Linked DNA regions of Homo sapiens. The protein of the gene in region 3 interacts with the protein of the main gene of each other region in a pairwise test. Each region holds a gene or a part of one and is shown on either strand. Other genes may lie near its edges. The genes, in order: PRC1, WASHC1, KRT20 and ZC3H14.

Evidence for each region.
Region 1: the proteins of KRT20 (region 3) and PRC1 interact in a two-hybrid assay, tested with the Homo sapiens proteins (one large-scale study listed by BioGRID and IntAct).
Region 2: the proteins of KRT20 (region 3) and WASHC1 interact in a two-hybrid assay, tested with the Homo sapiens proteins (one large-scale study listed by BioGRID).
Region 4: the proteins of KRT20 (region 3) and ZC3H14 interact in a two-hybrid assay, tested with the Homo sapiens proteins (one large-scale study listed by BioGRID and IntAct).

Annotation. Positions count from the first base shown.
Region 1 is NC_000015.10:90,988,012-90,991,582, forward strand, and holds part of PRC1 (protein regulator of cytokinesis 1), read right to left. Parts: intron 614-3,571; exon of another isoform or gene 1-613. UniProt on the Homo sapiens protein: Key regulator of cytokinesis that cross-links antiparrallel microtubules at an average distance of 35 nM. Essential for controlling the spatiotemporal formation of the midzone and successful cytokinesis.
Region 2 is NC_000009.12:16,734-19,526, forward strand, and holds part of WASHC1 (WASH complex subunit 1), read right to left. Parts: exon of another isoform or gene 2,413-2,793; coding exon of another isoform or gene 2,293-2,412; intron 1,760-2,292; coding exon 1,648-1,759; intron 1,442-1,647; coding exon 1,295-1,441; intron 1,123-1,294; coding exon 986-1,122; intron 747-985; coding exon 611-746; intron 434-610; coding exon 232-433; intron 144-231; coding exon 1-143. UniProt on the Homo sapiens protein: Acts as a component of the WASH core complex that functions as a nucleation-promoting factor (NPF) at the surface of endosomes, where it recruits and activates the Arp2/3 complex to induce actin polymerization, playing a key role in the fission of tubules that serve as transport intermediates during endosome sorting.
Region 3 is NC_000017.11:40,878,762-40,882,259, forward strand, and holds part of KRT20 (keratin, type I cytoskeletal 20 precursor), read right to left. Parts: intron 2,010-3,498; coding exon 1,853-2,009; intron 1,501-1,852; coding exon 1,339-1,500; intron 1,178-1,338; coding exon 1,052-1,177; intron 1-1,051. UniProt on the Homo sapiens protein: Plays a significant role in maintaining keratin filament organization in intestinal epithelia. When phosphorylated, plays a role in the secretion of mucin in the small intestine.
Region 4 is NC_000014.9:88,601,021-88,604,591, forward strand, and holds part of ZC3H14 (zinc finger CCCH domain-containing protein 14), read left to right. Parts: intron 1-903; coding exon 904-1,063; intron 1,064-1,807; coding exon 1,808-2,040; intron 2,041-3,571. UniProt on the Homo sapiens protein: RNA-binding protein involved in the biogenesis of circular RNAs (circRNAs), which are produced by back-splicing circularization of pre-mRNAs.

The DNA.
Region 1 (3,571 bases), on a different chromosome or scaffold from region 3:
AATTTACGGTACTCCCTTCACTTTAGAAATGTTAACAGTTCAAGTCCAACAGAACTTAAAGGAAAAAAAGAGAAATGTTAACAGTAAGTAAGGCATTTATTTAACATAATCTCAACTAAAGTCCAACTAAAGAGCTTCCCCAGGCAAACACTCCTTTTGCACTTCATTTTGAAGACAAAAGAATGCACAAGTTAAAATCCTAATATTACCATTTTATTAAAAATAACTTTTAAGATCCAATCTGTGGCCAATATTCGATCTGGATGCAAAACCCTGGCTTCCAGACAGGCCAGCCAGGGGCACTGCTCTGAAGGTCATTACTTAAGTATCCCAGTCTCCTCAGTCTGACAGACCTACCCCTGCCCAGCCAATCTCCACATAACAGCTAGTTGTTCATAATAAATCCCATCAGATCCCCGCTTAACTACTCCCCTTCAAAGGCTCCACTGCCCTCAGGAAATAGTTCAACCACCTTCTGTAGAAAGGCCTTCTAAAACCTCTCTCCGAGTCTGTCTGCTAATCTCTCCCACTTGACACTCCCCAGGTCTCTGGCCAGCTGAACTTCCCGGGCATTTCCTGAACAATGCCCCTCAATAAACCACATGCAACTCTCATTTTCTGATGCCACCGCGCTTTGTACATTCAGTTCCGTCTATATGCCACCACCTCCTCTGGAGAGCTGTGGACTTGTCACTCACCATTCCCCCCAAGCCCCCTAGTAGACCATAAACTCAAGGGCAAGGACCACCACATCTTATTCATCTTCATTTTACCACACCCTAACTCACAGTAGTTGTTCAATAGATATAAAATGAATGGCCCTGAATTCCTCCCAAAGGGTCCTATGCTCCTAACCTACCTAACCTAATAGAGGTATTATGCACTCTGGATCCTGACGAAGGTTTACAAGCAGGGCTGCCTATCTCTGTAACACATCTAGAAGGTAAAGTGATCGTTTTTCTGAGTAAAAAAATCTAGCACAATGGGCAAAGAATCTGAATAGACATTTCTCCAAAGAAGATATAAAAATGGCCAATAAGCACATGAAAAGATGCTCAATATTAGTCATTAGGGAAATGCAAATCAAAACCACTTCATAGCCAACAGGATGGTATAATAAAAAAAAATATATAGCAAAAAGTATTGGTGAGAATCTAGAGGAACTAGAACCCTCAGACACTGCTTGTGGGCATGCAAGACGGTACAGCCTCTTTGGAAAATAGTCTGGTAGTTCCTCAATTGATTTTTTGTTTTTTGAGACAGGGCCTCACTGTCACCTGGGCTGGAGTGCAGTGGTGTGATCATAGCTCAACGCAGCCTCAACGCCCTGGGCTCAAGCAATTCTCCTACCTTAGTCTCCCAAGTAGCTGGGACCATAGACGTGCCATCGTGCTTGGCTAATTTTTTTTTTTTTTTTTTTTTTTAAGGTTTGCCATGTTGCTCAGGCTGGTCTTGAACTCCTGGGCCCAAGCAATCCTCCCACCTCGGCCTCCCAAAGTGTTGGGATAACAGACATGAGCCACTGCACCCGGCCCCTCAGTTTAACAGAGTTCATACAACTCAGCAATTTTATTACTGGGTATTTGCCCAAAAGAAATGAAAACACATTTATACAAAAACTACACAACTGTTTATAGCAGCATTACTTATAATAGCCAAAAAGTGAAAAAAAAAATACAAATGGCCATCAACTTATGAATGGGTAAATAAAATGTAGTATATAGGCATACAATGGAATATTATTTGGCAATAAACCTTGAAAACATTATGTTAAGTCAAAGAAGCAAGTCACAAAAGACCAGAGCTACGGTTCCGTTTTTATGAAATATCCAGAATAGGTAAAAAGTAGATTTGGGGTTTGTATGGTTTTTTGAGACAGGGTCTCCCTCTTTCACCTAGGCTGGAGTGCAGTAACATGATCATGGCTCACTGCAGCCCCAACTTCCTAGGCTCAGGTGATCCTCCCACCTGAGCCTCCGGAGTAGCTGGGACTACAGATGTGAGCCACCACACCCAGCTAACTTAAACAATAAAATTTTTTTTTAGGCCGGGTGCGGTGGATCACTCCTGTAATCCCAGCACTTTGGGTGCCAAGACCGGCGGATCACGAGGTCAGGAGTTTGAGACCAGCCTGGCCAATATGGTGAAACCCCGTCTCTACTAAAAATACAAAAATTAGCTGGGTGTGGTGGTGGGCACCTGTAATCTCAGCTACTCGGGAGGCTGAGGCAGGAGAATTGCTTGAATCCGGGAGGTGGAGGTTGCAGTGACCTGAGATCACGTCACTGCACTCCAGCCTGGGTGACAGAGTGAGACTCCATCTCAAAAAATAAAATAAAATAAAATAAAAAATAAAATAAATAAATAAATAAATAAATAATTTTTTTTTTTTTTTTAAGAGGTAGAGTCTCTCTATGTTGCCCAAGCTGTTCTTGAACTCCTGGGCTCAAGTAGTCCTCCCACCTTGGGCTCCCAAAGTGCTGGAATTATAGGTGTGCGCCACCTTGCCTAGCCGAAAAGTAGATTTGTAGTTGCGGCTGGGGAGAATTTGGACCATGGGGTGAAAGGGGATTGACTGCTAATGGGATTTTAAAGGGGTGATAAAAATGTTCTAAAATTGATTGCAGTGATGATTGCACAACTCTGAATATTCTAAAAATCACTGAATTATAATATACAATTTAAGTACATTGTATGGTATGTGGATTATACCTCAAAGCTGTTATTAAAAACATCTTGGCACATAATCTAAAACATTTTTGGTTTCTTTTTTTTTTCTTTTTTTGAGACAGAGTCTCAGTCTGGCACCCAGGCCGGAGTGCAATGGTGTGATCTCAGCTCACTGCAACCTCTGCCTTCTGGGATCAAGCGATTCTCCTGCCTCAGCCTCCTGAGTAGCTGGGACTACAGGCACACGGCACCACGCCCGGCTAATTTTTGTATTTTTAGTAGAGACGGGGTTTCACCATGTTGGTCAGGCTGGTCTCAAACTCCTGACCTCGTGATCCGACCGCCTCGGCCTCCCAAAGTGCTGGGATTACAGGCGTGAGCCACTGTGCCCGGCCCATAATCTGAAATGTTTTTGATTTGTGACTTAATTGAAAAACTTACAGATTTTTACTATGGCCGGGCGCGGTGGCTCGTGTGCAATCCCAGCACTTTGGGAGGCCAAGGCGGGCGGATCACCTGAGATCAGGAGCTCGAGACCAGCCTGGCCAACATGGTGAAACCCCATCTCTACTAGAAATACAAAAATTAGCTGGGCGTGGTAGTGGGTGCCTGTAATCCCAGATACTCAGGAGGCTGAGGCAGGAGAATCACTTGAACCCGGTGAACCCAGGAGGCGGAGGTTGCAGTGAGCTGAGATCATGCCATTGCACTCCAGCCTGGGCAACAGAGCAAGACTGTCTCCAAAAAAAAAAAGAAATAAAAATTTTACTAATATATAACGTATTTTATTTGGCCTGTTGGAAATGGGTGTTTGGAATTACCAAACACCCATTATTATTATTCTAGTTAGAGACACTTCCTGTAAGAGGATCATTTTCAAATTAAAAACTAACATTTCTCA
Region 2 (2,793 bases), on a different chromosome or scaffold from region 3:
GCTGCTGCTGTCGTCCTGCCTGGCGCCTTGGCCTACAGGGGCCGCGGTTGAGGGTGGGAGTGGGGGTGCACTGGCCAGCACCTCAGGAGCTGGGGGTGGTGGTGGGGGCGGTGGGGGTGGTGTTAGTACCCCATCTTGTAGGTCTGAAACACAAAGTGTGGGGTGTCTAGGGAAGAAGGTGTGTGAGCAGGGAGGTCCCCGGCCCAGCTCCCATCCCAGAACCCAGCTCACCTACCTTGAGAGGCTCGGCTACCTCAGTGTGGAAGGTGGGCAGTTCTGGAATGGTGCCAGGGGCAGAGGGGGCAATGCCGGGGCCCAGGTCGGCACTGTACATGAGGTCGTTGGCAATGCCGGGCAGGTCAGGCAGGTAGGATGGAACATGGATCTCAGGCACCTGGCCCAGGTCTGGCACATAGAAGTAGTTCTCTGGGACCTGCAAGATTAGGCAGGGACATGTGAGAGGTGACAGGGACCTGCAGGGGCAGCCAACAAGACCTTGTGTGCACCTCCCATGGGTGGAATAAGGGGCCCAACAGCCTTGACTGGAGAGGAGCTCTGGCAAGGCCCTGGGCCACTGCACCTGTCTCCACCTCTGTCCCACCCCTCCCACCTGCTGTTCCAGCTGCTCTCTCTTGCTGATGGACAAGGGGGCATCAAACAGCTTCTCCTCTGTCTCTGCCCCCAGCATCACATGGGTCTTTGTTACAGCACCAGCCAGGGGGTCCAGGAAGACATACTTCTTGTACCTACGGAGGCGACATGGGGGTCAGGCAAGCTGACACCCGCTGTCCTGAGCCCATGTTCCTCTCCCACATCATCAGGGGCACAGTGTGCACTGTGGGGTCCCAGGCCTCCCGAGCCGAGCCACCCCAGTCACCCCCTGGCTCCTGGCCTATGTGCTGTACCTGTGTCTGATGCCCTGGGTCCCCACTAAGCCAGGCCGGGCCTCCCGCCCACACCCCTCGGCCCTGCCCTCTGGCCATACAGGTTCTCGGTGGTGTTGAAGAGCAGCAAGGAGCTGACAGAGCTGATGTTGCTGGGAAGACCCCCAAGTCCCTCTTCTGCATCGTCCTCGGGCTCCGGCTTGGTGCTCACGCACACAGGAAAGTCCTTCAGCTTCTCCTGAGAGGGCCAGGATGGCCAAGGGATGGTGAATATTTGGTGCTGGGCCTAATCAGCTGCCATCCCATCCCAGTCAGCCTCCTCTGGGGGACAGAACCCTATGGTGGCCCCGGCTCCTCCCCAGTATCCAGTCCTCCTGGTGTGTGACAGGCTATATGCGCGGCCAGCAGACCTGCAGGGCCCGCTCGTCCAGGGGGCGGTGCTTGCTCTGGATCCTGTGGCGGGGGCGTCTCTGCAGGCCAGGGTCCTGGGCGCCCGTGAAGATGGAGCCATATTCCTGCAGGCGCCCTGGAGCAGGGTACTTGGCACTGGAGAACACCTGTGGACACAGGGACAAGTCTGAGGGGGCCCCAAGAGGCTCAGAGGGCTAGGATTGCTTGGCAGGAGAGGGTGGAGTTGGAAGCCTGGGCGAGAAGAAAGCTCAAGGTACAGGTGGGCAGCAGGGCAGAGACTGGGCAGCCTCAGAGGCACGGGGAAATGGAGGGACTGCCCAGTAGCCTCAGGACACAGGGGTATGGGGACTACCTTGATGGCCTTCTTGCTGCCCTTGATCTTCTCAATCTTGGCCTGGGCCAAGGAGACCTTCTCTCCAATGGCCTGCACCTGGCTCCGGCTCTGCTCTACCTGCTGGGAGATCCTGCCATGGAGAAGATCACAGAGGCTGGGCTGCTCCCCACCCTCTGCACACCTCCTGCTTCTAACAGCAGAGCTGCCAGGCCAGGCCCTCAGGCAAGGGCTCTGAAGTCAGGGTCACCTACTTGCCAGGGCCGATCTTGGTGCCATCCAGGGGGCCTCTACAAGGATAATCTGACCTGCAGGGTCGAGGAGTTGACGGTGCTGAGTTCCCTGCACTCTCAGAAGGGACAGGCCCTATGCTGCCACCTGTACATGCTATCTGAAGGACAGCCTCCAGGGCACACAGAGGATGGTATTTACACATGCACACATGGCTACTGATGGGGCAAGCACTTCACAACCCCTCATGATCACGTGCAGCAGACAATGTGGCCTCTGCAGAGGGGGAACGGAGACCGGAGGCTGAGACTGGCAAGGCTGGACCTGAGTGTCGTCACCTAAATTCAGACGGGGAACTGCCCCTGCACATAGTGAACGGCTCACTGAGCAAACCCCGAGTCCCGACCACCGCCTCAGTGTGGTCTAGCTCCTCACCTGCTTCCATCCTCCCTGGTGCGGGGTGGGCCCAGTGATATCAGCTGCCTGCTGTTCCCCAGATGTGCCAAGTGCATTCTTGTGTGCTTGCATCTCATGGAACGCCATTTCCCCAGACATCCCTGTGGCTGGCTCCTGATGCCCGAGGCCCAAGTGTCTGATGCTTTAAGGCACATCACCCCACTCATGCTTTTCCATGTTCTTTGGCCGCAGCAAGGCCGCTCTCACTGCAAAGTTAACTCTGATGCGTGTGTAACACAACATCCTCCTCCCAGTCGCCCCTGTAGCTCCCCTACCTCCAAGAGCCCAGCCCTTGCCCACAGGGCCATACTCCACGTGCAGAGCAGCCTCAGCACTCACCGGGCACGAGCGAGCCTGTGTGGTGCGCAGGGATGAGAAGGCAGAGGCGCGACTGGGGTTCATGAGGAAGGGCAGGAGGAGGGTGTGGGATGGTGGAGGGGTTTGAGAAGGCAGAGGCGCGACTGGGGTTCATGAGGAAAG
Region 3 (3,498 bases):
TTGGTTAATAAAATGCAGGTCAAACTGACAAATGCCTTTTCTTTTTCTTTTTTTTTTTGGGACGGAGTCTTGCTCTGTCGCCCAGGCTGGAGTGCAGTAATGTGATCGCAGCTCACTGCAACCTCTGCCTCCTGGGTTCAAGCGATTCTCCTGCCTCAACCTCCCAAGTAGCTGGGATTACAGGCACACACCACCATGCCCAGCTTATTTTTGTATCTTTAGTAGAGATGGGGTTTCACCATATTGGCCAGCTGGTCTCAACCTCCTGACCTCAAATGATCCTCCTGCCTTGGCCTCCCAAAGGACAAATGCCTTTTCTAAGGAGAAGCTTTAAGAGCTATCAAGTGGACCAACCATTGCTCTTTTCTTTCTGCCAGGACACTGGCATGTCCTAGGTAGGGCCTACCCCTTTAGCCTTGCCCTTGGAAAGGAAATGTCACGGTGGATGTAGTATCATGGCTGCAGGCCACTGTGGTTTGAGGGATTCTGCTTACCACAACATAATTTGTCATGGGCTTGCTGATTTGCTTGGCCTGGAATGTCTCTAGTCCATTCTCCATCTTAAAATTTTATCTTAGATTTTGAGATCTGGTATAATGGACACATACAGGGGAATAGCAGACATGGGGGCCTAACAGAGGGTGGAGGGTAGGAGGAGGGAGAGGATCAGGAAAAATAACCAATGGGTATTAGGTTTAATACCTGAGTGATGAAATAACCTGTACAACAAATCCCCATGACACAAGTTTAACTACATCATAAATCTGCACATGTACTCCTGAACTTAAAAGTTACAAGAAGATCTGGTTTAAATGCCACTTTCCCTGTGAAATCTTCCAGATTTACTCTTTCCTCTGCATTCATGCAGTACATTGCCCTTTCCTCGATTTCTCTCTGTCCTTTAATTATAATCAGTTGTTCGGCCTGTTTCCCTGCCAGTTCTGCAAGGGGAAGGGTTATTTCTTGTAGGTCTTTGCATTTCTATAGTTCCTAACAGAGGACCTTGGTAAACACATACTAGATTGAGAAAGAGAAGTTAGATATGCTTTACCATGCTGAGATGGGACTGGAGTTCTATCTCAAGGCTCTGGGAGGTGCGTCTCAGCTCCGTTAGTTGAACCTCAGTTCCTTTTAATTCTTCAGTATTCACTGTGACCTGTTGCTGCAGAACTGCAGTCTACAGTGCCAAGAGTGAAAAAAAAATAGTTGAGGGGTGGAAATAAGAAAGAAAAGACAGAAAGAGAAAGGAAGAATGAACAAATGAAAAAGAAAATGAGTTATCTGTTTCTGGAGGAAAGCATCTACACGTTTGCTCACCCTTTAGAATTGTGTGGTTACCTGTCTCTCAAACTGTTCTTTGGCCTCTTGAAGGTTCTTCTGGGCCATGACTTCATACTTCTGCCTCATTTCATTCATGATGACGCCAAGGTTCAGGCCTGGAGCAGCATCAACCTCCACATTGACAGTGTTGCCCAGATGCTTGTGTAGGCCATCGACTTCCTATGAAAGTGAAATTTCTGATTGATTTTAGTCTGAAGCACATTCTCAGATAAGGCTGGGCAGAAAAGACATAAGGAGTCTCATGACCTCTTTCATTGGGAATAAGTAAAAAAGATATAAAATAATAACTTGTGTTGGGCTTATTGTGGTCCAGGTGCTGCTCTAAGTCATTTAACTTACAACAACATTATGAAAAGAAGGTAGGGCTTGTATCATTATTGTCATCGTCATCATCTCTGTCACTATCACCACCAACTCTTCCCCCTTCTCCTGTTTCTCCCGCTCCTCCTATTATTAGTATTATATAGAACCATTCCATTGTTTCCAATACCACTTCTGAATATTTTCTCACCTCCTGATGCTCCTTTTTGAGGAGAGCTAGGTCTTTATTCAGTTCTTCAATTTGAATCTCCAAATCTGTTTTATGTAGGGTTAGGTCATCAAAGACCTTATTCAGGCCTTGGAGATCAGCTTCCACTGTTAGACGTATTCCTCTCTCAGTCTCATACCTGTGAATTAATTAGTGTACAGAGATAACTGGTCCTTCTGAAGCCATTATAAGGAGAGAATCTAATATAATGGGATAGGTTTTTAAATGTGGCTTATGAGGAGATCAATTTCAATACTTTATAATGTCTGCCTTTACACAATCATGAAATTTACATAAGAACCTAGGAGTCAGAAAATGTGCTCAATAATATAATCTCTATAATTTGGGGTGACTGGTAAAAAGGCAATCTGAAATAATTTTGAACACTTCTAAATTCTAGAATTTATCTTATAAGAAATTAAATTGTGTTAATTATTGTGTTGGCAAAGGGTTCTTATTATTGATATTAAATAATGGTTAGTTTTACTTAATGAATGTACATGATCGATTTATTTTTATTACTTTGTGAACAGAGACATCCAAAGTGAATTATCTCAAACAGCTCTACATCCTCCTCTACAATCTTACATACACACTGTGTGTGTGTGTGTGTGTGTGTGTGTGTGTGTGTATTTGAGACAGGGTCCCACTCTGTCACTCAGGCTGGAGTACAATGGTGTGATCATGGCTCACTGCAGCCTCAACCTTTGGGGCTCAAGCAATCCTCTCACCTCAGCCTCCCAAGTAGCTGGGACAGCAGATGTATGCCACCATGCCCAGCTAATTTTTTTTGTATTTTTGTATAGAGATGTGGTTTTGCCACGTTGCCCAAGCTGTTCTCAAACTCCAGGACTCAAGTGAGCCTCCTGCCTCAGCCTCTCAAAGTGCTGGGATTACAGGCGTTAGCCATCATGCATGCCCTGCCCAGTTTCCTAAAATATCCAACTTTAAAAAATGACACTGCAATGTGACACTCAGTGCTAGGTAAAATTGGAAGTAATGCACCTTTACTGCTTTCATCTTTGGATTTGATTTCCTATTTCCTTCTTGTTAATCCCTTGGAGCATTAAAAGGCTACCCTTCTAACCACAAAGGGCTTTTTGGTGTTAATGCATTGTACAAATTCAGGATGAAGAGGCCTTAGTGTGGAAGCTGTTTGCAAGGAACAGGTCTGGTCACATGTGGTGTGATGACTACAAAGAAAGTGAACACAATTTTTACTTTCTTTTTCTTTTCTTTCTTTCTTCCTTTTTTTTTTTGAGACAAGGTCTCAGTCTGTTGCCCAGGTTGCAGTGCAATGGCACGATCTCAGCTCACTGAAACCTCCGCCTCCCAGGTTCAAGCGATTCTCCTGCCTCAGCCTCCGGAGTAGCTGGGATTACAGACATACGGCATCACGCCCAGCTAATTATTATAGATTGGTCCTGGTTCTTTGGTTGGCCAGACCATCCTGTAAAACACTGGCAAGCCAGAAATCATCAAGAGTCACCCCTGGAACTTGGGTCATACACTTGCAGGCACTTGAATGAACGTGGAGAATTACTTGGAGAATCACCAAGGGTAGACACAAGACTCTCTTTAGATAACAGAAAGGCACTTAGGGAGAAGGAGAATTGTAAATTACTTTG
Region 4 (3,571 bases), on a different chromosome or scaffold from region 3:
TCAGATGTTCCTCCTTGCTAAGCTTTTCGTTGGTTCTTGGCTGGAGTGGGCTGTTCTGTATTCTCAGCACCTTGTTCACATCCCTTTTGGGTCATGCTATTCTGAAATTGTATATGTGTCTGTTTTTCTTTTTTTCTTTGTGTATCTAGCTCAGTTCTCTTAGTTGTTCAGTAAATACTCAGTGAATGAACATAAATGAATACCCTGTAAATTTTGGTCTCTAAGCTTTAAAAGAAGTGTATTAACTTCAGTCCGTTGATGGCGTATTGATAGGTCAGCCATTCTGGGTTGTAGGTCTTGGCATATTTTATAAAATAGTAGATGATGTGAGCTTATGGTTATTTGCATTAAAGGCCAGTGTTTTTCTTGATACATATGTTTAAGTGTCCATTCACCTTTCAGTTACCTTTTAAAGTAGTCCTCGGTTTATAACCAACTGGAAATTATACCACTTGAATTCTTTTTATCAGGACATGATTCTAAGTGGTACTGTGCGAAGTGAACAAACCAGATTTTGGAAAAGTGGTTCAGCAGTCTGTGTATTCTAATTATAGGGAGCATTAGGACTCAAATTCTCCAGGTTTTTAGAAAAGATTTTTGTACTTTAAGGGTATATTGTTAATATCTGTTGAGATGCCTCACCTGAGAACCTTTCTCTGCTGTGGTTAGGGAGTGTTAATCAGAATCACTTGTGCCGTGCCCTACGCGAGAAGGACTCCTTGAGTTCTTTGAAAACATGTTTGGAATAGAATTATAGCCCTGTTTTCCTGAGTGGAACCAGTTGTGATTTTCCTTTGAAATAATTTGAATATATAAAAGATTGACATTCTTCTCACATATATAATGTTGGGAATGTAAGGTATATTCAAAAGTAAACATTTGTGGCCAATTTTTTTGGCTCAGATTACTATGACATGGAATCCATGGTCCATGCAGACACAAGATCATTTATTCTGAAGAAGCCAAAGCTGTCTGAGGAAGTAGTAGTGGCACCAAACCAAGAGTCGGGGATGAAGACTGCAGATTCCCTTCGGGTACTTTCAGGACACCTTATGCAGACACGGTAGATGGTTTCTTTTTCTTGTGTAGTTAATTTGTGTGATTAGATAGTAAAGGTTAACCATTCGTTTGCAGCTTCCCTCCTCCCCGCCCTAACCGCTAGCGTAGAGTGCTTTCATTGATTCAGTAGCTAGCCCATGAATAGTTAGCCAAATTCAGTTTTCAAGAATTCCAGTTCATCTTTCTTGTTCAGAAATCCATTAACCTACAAATTACAACTCAGTGTATGATTTAACTCTATTAAAGATTCTTTTCTTTATGCAAATTCAGGAAATGCAAGTTTAAAAGCCAGCTGACCATAATCAGGTCAGCTCTAAAGAGAGTTGGCAGATCAGGTTTGGGTGATTTTTCCCTTAGAAAATTGACTGTTTCTATAAAAGAAGAAACATACAGATAATTAGCATAAATGCTGCTGGCCCTTGTGTTCTGAGCATTGATGCTAATTTTTTGGTTTGTTTCCATGTTGACCCTATGAAGATCGAATGGGTGATGGGGTCAGGCTTGAGGGGAGATTGTCCTTAGTAAGTACAGGCTGGAGGGTCACTGGTGATGCCACTGTGACTGTTCATGGCCATCGTGTGTTAGCAGAGAACCCACCAGTGCTGCACCTGGTAGCCCTACCTAGTCTTTTTTTATTGAACCAAACGCAAAGCCAAGGGAGTGATAGTTCTGCTGAAGAGCACTTTAGGGGGCTCAGCGTTTTGTGTTTGTTTCCCTAATTCTATGGTATTTTTTATCTGTCTGGCAGAGATCTTGTACAACCAGATAAACCTGCAAGTCCCAAGTTTATAGTGACGCTGGATGGTGTCCCCAGCCCCCCAGGATACATGTCAGATCAAGAGGAGGACATGTGCTTTGAAGGAATGAAACCCGTAAACCAAACTGCAGCCTCAAACAAGGGACTCAGAGGTCTCCTCCACCCACAGCAGTTGCACTTGCTGAGCAGGCAGCTTGAGGACCCAAATGGTAGCTTTTCTAACGGTGTGTTGAGAGCTCAGATTTTCAGGGTGCTGTCATTGTGAAGGGAATCTTTGACTTGTTTCTCTACCTTGAATGAATATTGGTTAAAGGCCTTGCTTTTATTTATATTCAGTAATGGCCTTTTTTCTTCTTTCAGACAAACCCACCAAGTACATTTCAGACTCTTTTTCCTGTGTCTTTTTCATAGGTGGGCTGTTACTCCAGTTTGAAAACGGAGTTCAGCCATGGAACCTGAGAGACCTCTTCCGCTTATGCTGGCTAAAGGATGAACCACCATTCTTGTTGCCTTCTTTACCTTTGTATTTTCTTCAGAAACTGTACTGCCACTTTGCCCTTTTATCAGCAATAGTCTCTTGCAATTAACTTGAGAGAAAAATTTAGATTTGATGCTATTTCTACCTCAGTGAAATTTCTTTGAAAGGAGTTTCTCACCTAATCTATCAAGATCTTGGAACTGTTTAAATTAATGTTGAAGAGTAATATTTAGCAGAACTCAGATGAACTCATTTCAGATAGCACCATAGTTTTTGGCAGGTGACAGTTTCTTATCACCGTTTCTTTCACTGGGTATCAGTGGTAGCTGCAACGCCACTGATCATTTCCATTCATGATAGAGAATGGTAATTATGTTCCTTATATCTTCTAAAATATTTAGAAGCACCTCTTCATTGGCAGGAGGGATAATTACTCAATCTTAAAAGCGTACAGATTCAAAGGAAAAACAGTAATGGATTTTGAAACATTTCCTTGAGTAATCCTCTTCTTGGAAGAGATATGAAAATGTATTGAATACCTTTCTCGATCATTAAAAATAGAATAGACTTCAGAGGGAAATCATATGTTAGTGGAGCAATAACACTTAGCTTTATTTTAATTGGTTGCGTTTCCTACTGTGAATCAATGACGTAGTGTCGTGGTTTTGATTAGTGGAGGGAGTTGAAAATCTGACCCTATCAACAGGAAGAAAAACTTAAAAAATAGTAAAAGCTGCAGTAGGCAGTCCCGATTTATTGACTCTGTATGTTTTGTCTAAAGAGAAGACTCCAGTGTTTTCACTACTCTTGATTTTCAATTTGGTACCTTAATTTTTTGGTCTATTAGGATCTGGTTTCATTTAAATGTAGGTGTCCATATGAGGCTTTATGGGGTATACATGTAGCAGCAGTGACACCATAAATAATATGTTAGTAAAAATTCTTGCCAGTGCTGTGGCCATTGTGCTGACAGCCATGATGAGTGGTGAGCCTCCTTTCCCATTGCTTTGACTGGGGACTCAGTGTTTCCCTGCTGCTCAAGGATGAAGCTTTGTAAGATTAGCATAGGGGTGTGGCTGGAGAGACTCCTGCAGAACAGTTCTCAGGAGTCTCTAGTCTCTGCACCACTTCCCCTGTGAGCAGGGAGTTTGAAACTGCAATTGCTTCTGGTTGGTTTTATGTTGGGTTGTTTCAAGGATGCTACCAACAACAACATCTGTTTTAACCTGCTGTCTTTTCACTCACTGTCATATGGCAGCACAGATTTTATAGCTTGC